Linked DNA regions of Homo sapiens: region 1 is linked to region 2. The links come from fine-mapping of genetic effects on gene expression. A gene starts in region 2. The other region holds a variant in brackets. All regions are shown on one strand. Distances are between the middles of the regions.

What was found. PIP is the estimated chance that this variant, and not a neighbour inherited with it, causes the effect.
Region 1: its variant is the best candidate, but not a certain one, in a credible set for the expression of FERMT3 in whole blood (TOPMed, PIP 0.51).

Annotation. Positions count from the first base shown.
Region 1 is chr11:64,127,822-64,132,198 of GRCh38, reverse strand. The region is part of intron 3 of MACROD1 (mono-ADP ribosylhydrolase 1); the gene reads left to right. Among named protein-coding and RNA genes, the nearest start is that of MACROD1, 36 kb to the left of the region's middle. RefSeq lists an enhancer at 2,129-2,722. The variant C/T (reference allele first, on the strand shown) is at 2,376.
Region 2 is chr11:64,204,513-64,208,889 of GRCh38, reverse strand. FERMT3 (FERM domain containing kindlin 3) reads right to left here and starts at 2,169. Exons shown (of 15, transcript NM_031471.6): 1 at 2,076-2,169; 2 at 1,366-1,539. The coding sequence starts at 1,525. STIP1 (stress induced phosphoprotein 1) reads right to left here. Exons shown (of 14, transcript NM_006819.3): 14 at 4,347-4,377. RefSeq lists enhancers at 321-400, 461-580, 1,521-1,600, 1,921-2,000, 2,435-2,997 and 2 more.

The DNA of each region.
Region 1 (4,377 bases), 77 kb after region 2:
GAGCTTGGAGGACGTGGGGCTGTTCCTAACCACATCCCAGACTGTAGGTCCCCTTGTCCCCAGCTCCCCATGAATAGGAGACTGTGTTCCTCATGAGTTCAGACGGAGTATCAGCCATTTCTGCATAGTTCTCCAGAGCAGGGGAAGGTGCAGAGACCTGGCCCCAGCAGCTCCGGCATGGGGAGGCCCCACTTCCAGGGCTGCCAGCAGTCACTGTGATGACTGGCATGTAGCAGATGCTCAGTCAAGTGCGCCCCTCCCTCCCGCCACTCACTTCCCTCCGGTTCCCCCTGCCCCCCTCCTCAGCTTCTTTTCTTTCAAGGGCCTGTTTGCCTGTAGGAGATTTTCATCAACCAACCACAAATATTTACTCAACACTTACCGGCAGGCAGCACGTGAGCTCCACAGGGCAGGGGGCTCTCGGTCCCATTTGCTGCATGTTCCCCATCTGAACAGGGCCTGGCATGCAGTAGGTGCTCAATAAAGGCTTGGTTGGTAGTCACAGCCTGAAACAGGGTAGTCTCTGCTCCCAGAGAGCTTACATTCCTGCTGCCTTCAGAAAACATCCTGAGGGGCTGGGCGCGGTGGCTCACTCCTGTAATCCCAGCACTTTGGGAGGCCGATGCGGGTGGATCATTGAAGTTGGGAGTTCAAGACCAGCCTGGCCAACATGGAGAAACCCCATCTCTAGTAAAAATACAAAAATTAGCTGGGCGTGGTAGCACACGCCTGTACACGCAGCTACTTGGGAGGCTGAGGCAGGAGAATCGCTTGAACCTGGGAGGCGGAAGCTGCCGAGATCACCTCACTGTACACCAGCCTGGGTGACAGAGCGAGACTCCATCAAAAAAAAGAAAACGTCCCGAGGGTCTTTGAGGGATCATGGAGCCCCCACACGTGGGTGGGGTGAGGGTCTTAAAGCCTGCCCTCCCCGTCACTCTGAGCTATGGCCAAGCTGGGTGTAACCCTGGAGAGAGTCAGGGTGTCCTCACCCGCTTCAGGCAGCTGGCCCCCATTTCCCTCTGCAGTGCCTGGGGCGGGGGTGACAGGGAGCATTTAGACCCGCAGCTCCCTGCACAGGGACCTCCTGGGGCACTCGCCTGCATCACAAGAATAAAAATGATAAAAACCTGCCACTGAATTCTGGGTGGCAGTAAATTACTTAACACCTGAAACAGGTTGAAATGTGGCCACTGTGGTTTTAATAAGCCCATCTCCGATGCAGTGCTTCCTCGCCGGGCCGGCCAGTTCTCTTCTTGAGGCATAATTTCATCTCGTCCCAGGCTTGGCAGCATTGCAAATAAGATTTCACTTCCCCTGTAAATCTTAGAGGGAGGGAGTGCAGGATTTCATTTGTGCTGTCAGTTAGCACTCCAGAGAGCCTGTTTACTTTGCCGCAGGAGGAGAAGGTCCTCTGGAGGTGCTGGACAGGGTGGCGGGTGGGGAGGTGGCAGTGTCAGCACTGGAAGGTGACGTGGGTGCGGCGGCGGGGAGGCAGCGGCATGTGTGGGGGGGTCCTGGAAGCATGCCTTATTTGGGGTGCCTGAAAGTGGATGAGCCAATGTCAGACCCACGGAGGCAGAATTTCAGGGCCAGCTGGGTGCCCTCCCATGCGTCCGGGACCCTCCTAGGCTGGGTGATAAGACTCAGCCACAGAACTTGGGTGTGGGGGTGTGGCCTGGGGTGTTAGACCCCTCCCAGGTTCCGACGCCTCTTCTTCAGGTTGCTCGGTGAGGCCAGAGACCCCTCCTGGGAAGTAGGGGCAGGAGAAGGGAAGCTTCCAGAACCCAGTGGTAGCCAGGTAAGGGCAGTTTCCAGGTACAGGAAAGCAGCCATGGAGGGGTAGGTATCACCCACTCTCTCTCTCTCATTTGAGCAGGAGCTTTTTAGTCCTGAGTCTGACAAAACAGACGGAGTCAGATACACAAAGCCGGAGCCCCGGGACTTAAGGTGCCTCTTGGCCGCAGGGCAGCCATTCGGGGGTCTTACCCACACGTGCCCCTAATCTCAGTGATAATGCAAGTCCTGAGAGATTTGTGGGGAAGGAAAGGGCCCAAAGTGGCTTGGCTGGAGGGTGGCACGGTGGGGGGCTGCAGCAGTGGTGTGGGGTAGGTTTCTCGGGGGACCACCCCATCTCCTGGCATCCAGCTGAAGACATGGTGTCAGGGCTCTTTGGGGCCAGCAGGTCCCCTGCAGTGCCTTTGAGGCACTGGCCAGTCCTGCTTGCTTTCCTGTAAGAACGGGAGGCTCACGGCCCCCCAACCACCCGGTCCTCTTCAGAACAGGTTATGTTTGGAGGGTTTTCCTTTCATTCCTGAAATGCAGGTCCTGGCAATTCCCTCCTGTGCGGCCCAAACCTGGCTGAGCCTCCAACT[C/T]CCCTGGGGCGCGTATTAAAACCTGAGATGTCCCCCACACCCACCCCCAATCCTGAAGCCTAAGGCTGCAGCCAGCCTGTCATCCTCTTCAGCAGGCCGTGGACCTGGGATTGTTGTGGGGGTGGTTTGGGGAACAGGCCCCACCCTGTACGGTTGCCTCTCTGTGCTGGACCTGGGGGCACTTTGCTGCCTGGGTCCAAAGGTCCTGCCAAGAACCTGGGCCTCCCTGCAAGAAGTGCCAACCAGCTCAGCACCTGGCTCCATCCCTGGGGGCCAGGAATGCGGGAGAAACCCCCCAGGAGGCTGTGCTGGGGGTGGGGGAGGCCTACACTCCCCAGACAAACTGTAGGCAACCCGGCCTCCCACGCCCTCTCACAGAGGCTCCGTCACAGCCGTAGGGTTGGTGCGGGTGGTTTCTGAGCTGGGCACTCCCAGTGGCATTACCTGTGTCGTCCCACCTCACCCTCCCAACAGCAGTCGGGGATGGAGCTGTTATCATGTACGCATGGAGGTGGAAACTGAGGCACAGAGAGGATGAGTAGCACATGTGGTAACTGGCGGAGCCCATGGGTCTAACCCAATACCCAGGGACTCCAAGGCCCTGCCCCAGGAGAGCAGTGGTGTTAATCCAGTGGTTCCCAAAGGCCTGTGACCGGGAACCCTTTCTGGGCAACACCTGTGTTAGCTCCAGGGGCTGAGGAACACAGTTTGAGAACACAGCCCTTCTTCCCTAGCTTCGAGGGCTCCACAGGTGTCCCCAGATTTGTGGCGCTGCCACACGTGGGGAGGGTGAGGTAAAGCCGGGAGCAGGACTTCCTGGGGAAGGGTGGGTTCACTGGGGTTGGCAAGGGCTGTTGTGCTTGGAGAATCATCCTCCTTGTACTCACATGGATCCATGGAGTGATTGGCTGATTGATTTACTGTTTATCGACTCACTCTTCATTCCTGTTTACGGGGCCTCCTGGTGCCAGACAAGTGCCCTCTGGGGATCTGGAGGTGTGGAGGGCAAGAGCTGCCAGTCTGGGCTCAGCCAAGCGAGGCGTGGGAAGGGGTCACCTGTGCAGGTGAGAAAGGCCAGCAGAGGCGTGGGAAACCAGTGCAGCATAGACCTGAAGTCTAAGCCACACTGGGCCTGGGGGGTGTCAGGCGTGGAGGGCAGAGGGTGGGGCTGCACTGAGGCTGGAGTCTGAGGGGGGCAACGGGGAGATGGGGGGACACAGGGCCTTCCTGAGTGGGGCGCAGAAGTGGACCTGCCCTCCTGTCTACCTCAGGCGGGCGGCGTGCCAGGCCTTCCCCATTGCCTCCTAGTCCTCCTTATCCGTGGAAGCGTCCTCTGTGGAAATCTGGTTCCCCACAGAGCCTCCCCAGCCCCACCCAGGCTAGGCCCTGACTCAGCCACGTAGATTCCTCACTCCTCCATGAGGCAGGAATACACCAGCCCCAGAGCATAGCAGGCCCTCAGTCAATATCTCCTGGCTGGCTGGCTGGCTGACTGTGTTCCAGAAAGAGCCCTCGACAGCCCCAGAGAATGGGTCTCAGGTGAGGGAGTGGGCACCCCTCCTGGGCACCCACTGTGCGCTGGGTCTCAGGGAGAAGTTGGAAGAACAGCCTGGGTCCTTTCCTGGGTGGTCACACTGTGTGCCACACCTTAGAGTGGTCTCTCTTGGGCTGCTCCTGCCCTGGCAGGACAGGAGGTGAGGATGGAGGAGGAGGGTGGGGCAGAGAGCACCTGTGGGGCCCACGTCACCCCACTCAGGGCCACCGGCCACTGAGAATTAACTTTGCTTCTTTGGAATATAAGGAAAAACCCGTTAACTGTATCCAGACATGAAATCAGATCTCAGGCAGAAGTAATGAGTTCTTGTTTTATGTTAAATTTAGCAGAGACTGCTATTGTTCTCATGGAAATTTTGTTCCTTCCTGTCCCCCTCCCTTTGGGATGTGAGAGAGGCAGATGAGGCTCCAGAGCTGTGAGTGTAATGGGTACATCTAGGGGATGGGG
Region 2 (4,377 bases):
CCACCTTCCCCTCCAGAAGAAAGTCTAGACCCCTTCTGGAGGCCTTCGGGGCCATGCAGAGCTGGCCAGGCACCAGCCAGCCTCATTTCTGGTCACGCTCCCAGCATCCTCACCAGCCGAGAGCCCTAATTCACAGCCCTCCGAGTCCCAGCGCCACCACCTTGCTCCTCCCTGCTGAGGCCACCTCTCAGGACTTCTCCTGGGGTTATCCCCATCCTGGGCTCGGGGCAGCCCCCTCCTCTGGCTCCAGGCCCCCATGATAGCGCCCTCTGTGCGGCAGCCGGCACGCAGCCCCCATGGGTCAGTCTCACCCGCTGCTGCTCCAGGAGGCCAGGGACTGGCCCGGGGCGGCCAGGCTGAGCATCAGTAGACAGAGCTGATGTGCTTAGGAGTGACAGTATCCCCACCACAGGGAACACAGAGCTAAAGGAACTTGCCCTGGGGTGCCCAGCAGCGGGTAGAGCAGCGGGGTCTGTCTGACTCCAGGTTAAGGCCTCCTGCGTTACCCTCATGCCGTGCCCTGGGGCCACCCAGGTCTTCACCACCCTCTCTCTGTTCCTCACTTCTATTCTCACAGCTGCTCCGGGCCCTGCCCCTGGCAGCTCCCCTCACAGCCTCAGTCTTGTGGCCGGGCCGTTCTGGACCCTATCCTCTCCACAGTCGGACTGACCTCCTCCTGTGCTGCACATGGTGGCCTGGCGGGGTCTGAGGAAGCCTCCCCACCATCACCCACCCCCCACCCACTGGCAGCCCAGGCCCAGGCTCTTGGCCGGGACTGTGGTGGGCCTGTCTTCCGGCTCTGCCTATCGGGGTCTTCCTGCTGCTCTCTCAGGAAGGGGTAGCCCCCACCCCCGGCAGGGAAGGAAGATGAGGAGCCCCCGTGTCACTAGCCCCGTGGTCCTCCATGACTGATACCACAGCTGCTCTGCTGTAACTTCCTGTGGGGGCAGGGCCTTCCCACCCAGGCTGGGCCTGTCACCAACCTGCTCAAAGCTTCCGCCAAGGGGAGGGAGCGTGGGGGCAGGCCCCTGGGTCACCTAGACCCCCTCAGACCTCAGCAATGTGACTTCAGCCTCGGCCCAGACAAGACCACTCCTTCTGCCCCTATTGGTGGCTGAATGGAGGATTGTGGCTGCGTCTGATCCTTAGCAGACCAGCTGCAGCAGAAGGGAGGGAGGGAAGAGGGTGGGAGGGAGAGGAAGTTGGGGAAATGTCTTTTTTGGAACCAAATGATTAAGCTAATGCCTGAGTCACCGTGACACCATTATCGGGAGCTGAGCAGCAGGGATGGCCCGGAAGTGCCCAGAGACACCCGTGGCGGCCGCCCATGGTGCCGAGTTCAGCAAGCGGGCAGCGGACACTCACTGATCTGCTCCACAATCTTCAGGAGCACCCCGCCGATGTGCGACTCCCCAGTGACCCGCAGGGTGACCGACTCGGCCTCTGGGTCCTCCTCTCCCACAAACACCCGCAGCTCCCATGACGAGTCGATGTAGTCCCCGGAGGCTGTCTTCATCCCCGCCATGGCTGCGGCTGCTGCTACAGAGAGTGTGGAAGGAGGCAAGGTGGGCAGGCCCTGGTAGGCCTCCGGGTTTGGGCAGAAGAGCTCTGTGATGCCCTGGACACACCCAGAGGAAAGCCGCTCATGAAGGAGGGCGGGAGTGAGCACCCAGGCCAGCACGCCCGTGGTACCCTCAGACTCTCTCTCCAGCGCTGGCGCTTGAGCCGCGAGGGCCCTCAGAGACCATGTAGTCCAATCCGCTCCCATCCTACAGGCGGGCAGACTGAGGCCGGGTAAGAAGGGGCTCACTCAGGACCACCGTGCTCAATGCCAGCCCACAGCTCACTCCCAGACCCTCAGGGGCAGCTGCCCACTCTGGCCATGGCTTCGTACCCAGGCCAGGAAGTAGTTCCGATCCTGGCCCACAGCTCAGATGCCAACATCACAAACCAGCCAAAGCCTCTCCGGGGAGGTGGAAAGTTCAGGCTGCCGCATGGCGAGAGGCAGGCTGGGCAGAGGCTGCAGGAGGATAAGGAAGAGAAGGGCCCAGGGTCCCAGTGAGGCCTGAGCTTACCTTTCCTGGCAAGGGCTGGGGGCTGCAGGTGGGTCTCGGGCTACACCCCTGTGGGCCGTGGGCTTCCTGCCCTCCTTTCTCTTTGGAGCTTCCTTCAGGGCAGCCCTTGCTTGTGCCTTATCACGAGCAGGGCGGGTTCAGCCCCTCCCCAGGGCGGGCTGGCGCTGGGTGCAGGAAGCACACTGCCAGCCCACAGAGGGTTCCAGGGGCCCCCCCACCTTTGTCCCCAGAGAGCACAGGAAGCTAGGGAGAGCGGGGCTTAGCGACTCAACACCATAAAAACGCCCCCTTCCTCATTTGGAGGGAAGCTCAGTGCAAACTCAACAAGTCCCCCGGCTGTGTGTGTTCAGGGCTAGGTCCACTTTTGTGGGAAGTGTCTGCCATCCTCAGCCTGTCACATGAGGTGGGGACCTTGGGCTTTGAAACATCACTGGGCTGCCGGAGGGAGAGCCCAGGAGTCGACAGAGTGTATCCAGGTTATTTGGGACTCACAGGTTAAATCGGCTCCAGCCTGGCTATCCCTATCAACCAAGGATCCCTCAAGGCCCCAGAGGGAAACAAGTCCATTTTGCAGTTTTTCCTAGCTCCGCGTAGGGCTACCTTCAAACTCATGAACTCAGACCTGCCAGGTGAACAAGTGAACAGTACTTGGCCCAGACCATCCACAACCTCCCGGGCCCTCAGGTCACCCAGCTCCAAACACGACCCCTCCACTGTGCTCCACTTGGATGAGCCTCCCCGAGTCCCCACGAGGCTCACTCCCATCAAGTCCCTGCTTAGGTGACACCTCAGGGGTCTCTGGTGGTCTATACCCTCCTGCTCATCACCTGCCCTAGGATGTGGACTTCAGTAGAGCAAGGCACGTCCGCCACCAGCTCTGCGCAGGACAGCGGCCTTTCCAGTGAACACACTGGGGTTGGAGCATGCAGGGTGGGCAAGCCTGGGGGCGGCAGAGTCCTGCCAATGGGGGAGGCTACCTGAGCATCGCCACTCAGATGGGGAAGGGGGCGGCCTGCCGGGGATTCCCAGGGGAAAAGAAAGCTGATGAAACTAACAGCAGGAAGTCCAGCCAGCTGCTAGTCTCAGCGCCTTCCTAGCCCAGAAAGCAGCACTCTTGGAGCAAATGAGGAAGTTTTACTCCTGCCCCAAAGGCCTCCCCAGTCCAGGAAGAGAGCTTTAGAAAACGCAGCTTGTTGCAACCATGGAAAAGTGTAATTAAAGCTTAGCACCCTAAGTTCTCAGGTAAGAGCCGTGCATTAAAACCATCACCCAGGCCGGGCGCGGTGGCTCACGCCTGTTAACCCCAGCACTTTGGGAAGTCCAGGCGGGTGGATCACGAGGTCAGGAGATTGAGACCATCCTGGCTAACACGGTGAAACCCCGTCTCTACTAAAAATACAAACAAACAAACAAACAAAAAATTAGCCGGGCGTGGTGGCGGGCGCCTGTAGTCCCAGCTACTCGGGAGACTGAGGCAGGAGAATGGCGTGAACCCGGGAGGCAGAGCTTGCAGTGAGCTGGATCACGCCACTGCACTCCAGCCTGGGCGACAGAGAGAGACACCATCTCAAAAAATACAAACAAAAAAAACCCATCACCCAGTGGGGTGCAGTGGCTCATGCCTGTAATCCCAGCACTTTGGGAGGTTGAGGCGGGTGGATCACTTGAGGTCAGGAGTTCGAGACTAGCCTGGCCAATATGGCGAAACACCTGTCTCCACTAAAATATAATAATTAGCTGGGTGTGGTAGCAGGCTCCTGTAATCCCAGCTACTGGGGAGGCTGAGGTAGGAGAAGCGTTTGAACCCAGGAGGTGGAGGTTGCAGTGAGCCGAGATCACACCACTGCACTCCAGCCTGAGACTCCATCTCAAATAACAAAACAAAAACAATCCATGACCCAACTCCTAAATCTAACAGCAGCTAACAGCATAGCTGCCCTCTCCCCACAGAGGTCTCAGCATCTCACATTAGAATCCTGTTCTCTGGATCTCCACTATAACGTGGAGAATTAACAGCACCCAAAGCTTATCTGAACCTCTCATTGGTACTACTTGGGGTGGGGAAGCCTTCAGATTCCCTTCCAGCTGCTGAGCAACAGCGCCATCTGGCAACCTTCTTGGCAAAGCCATGGAGCTGTGCCAAGCCACAGCTTGGGACTCCTCCTAAGCCCGCCCCAAAGAGAAGAGCAAGATCAGGTTCCAGGAGCAGCCCCTGCAAGACAAACTCCTGGTTTAAAAAAAAAAAAAAAATCACTCAAGGCCAAAGCAACATATAACCACGCCCAACTGGCTTGTTTTATTG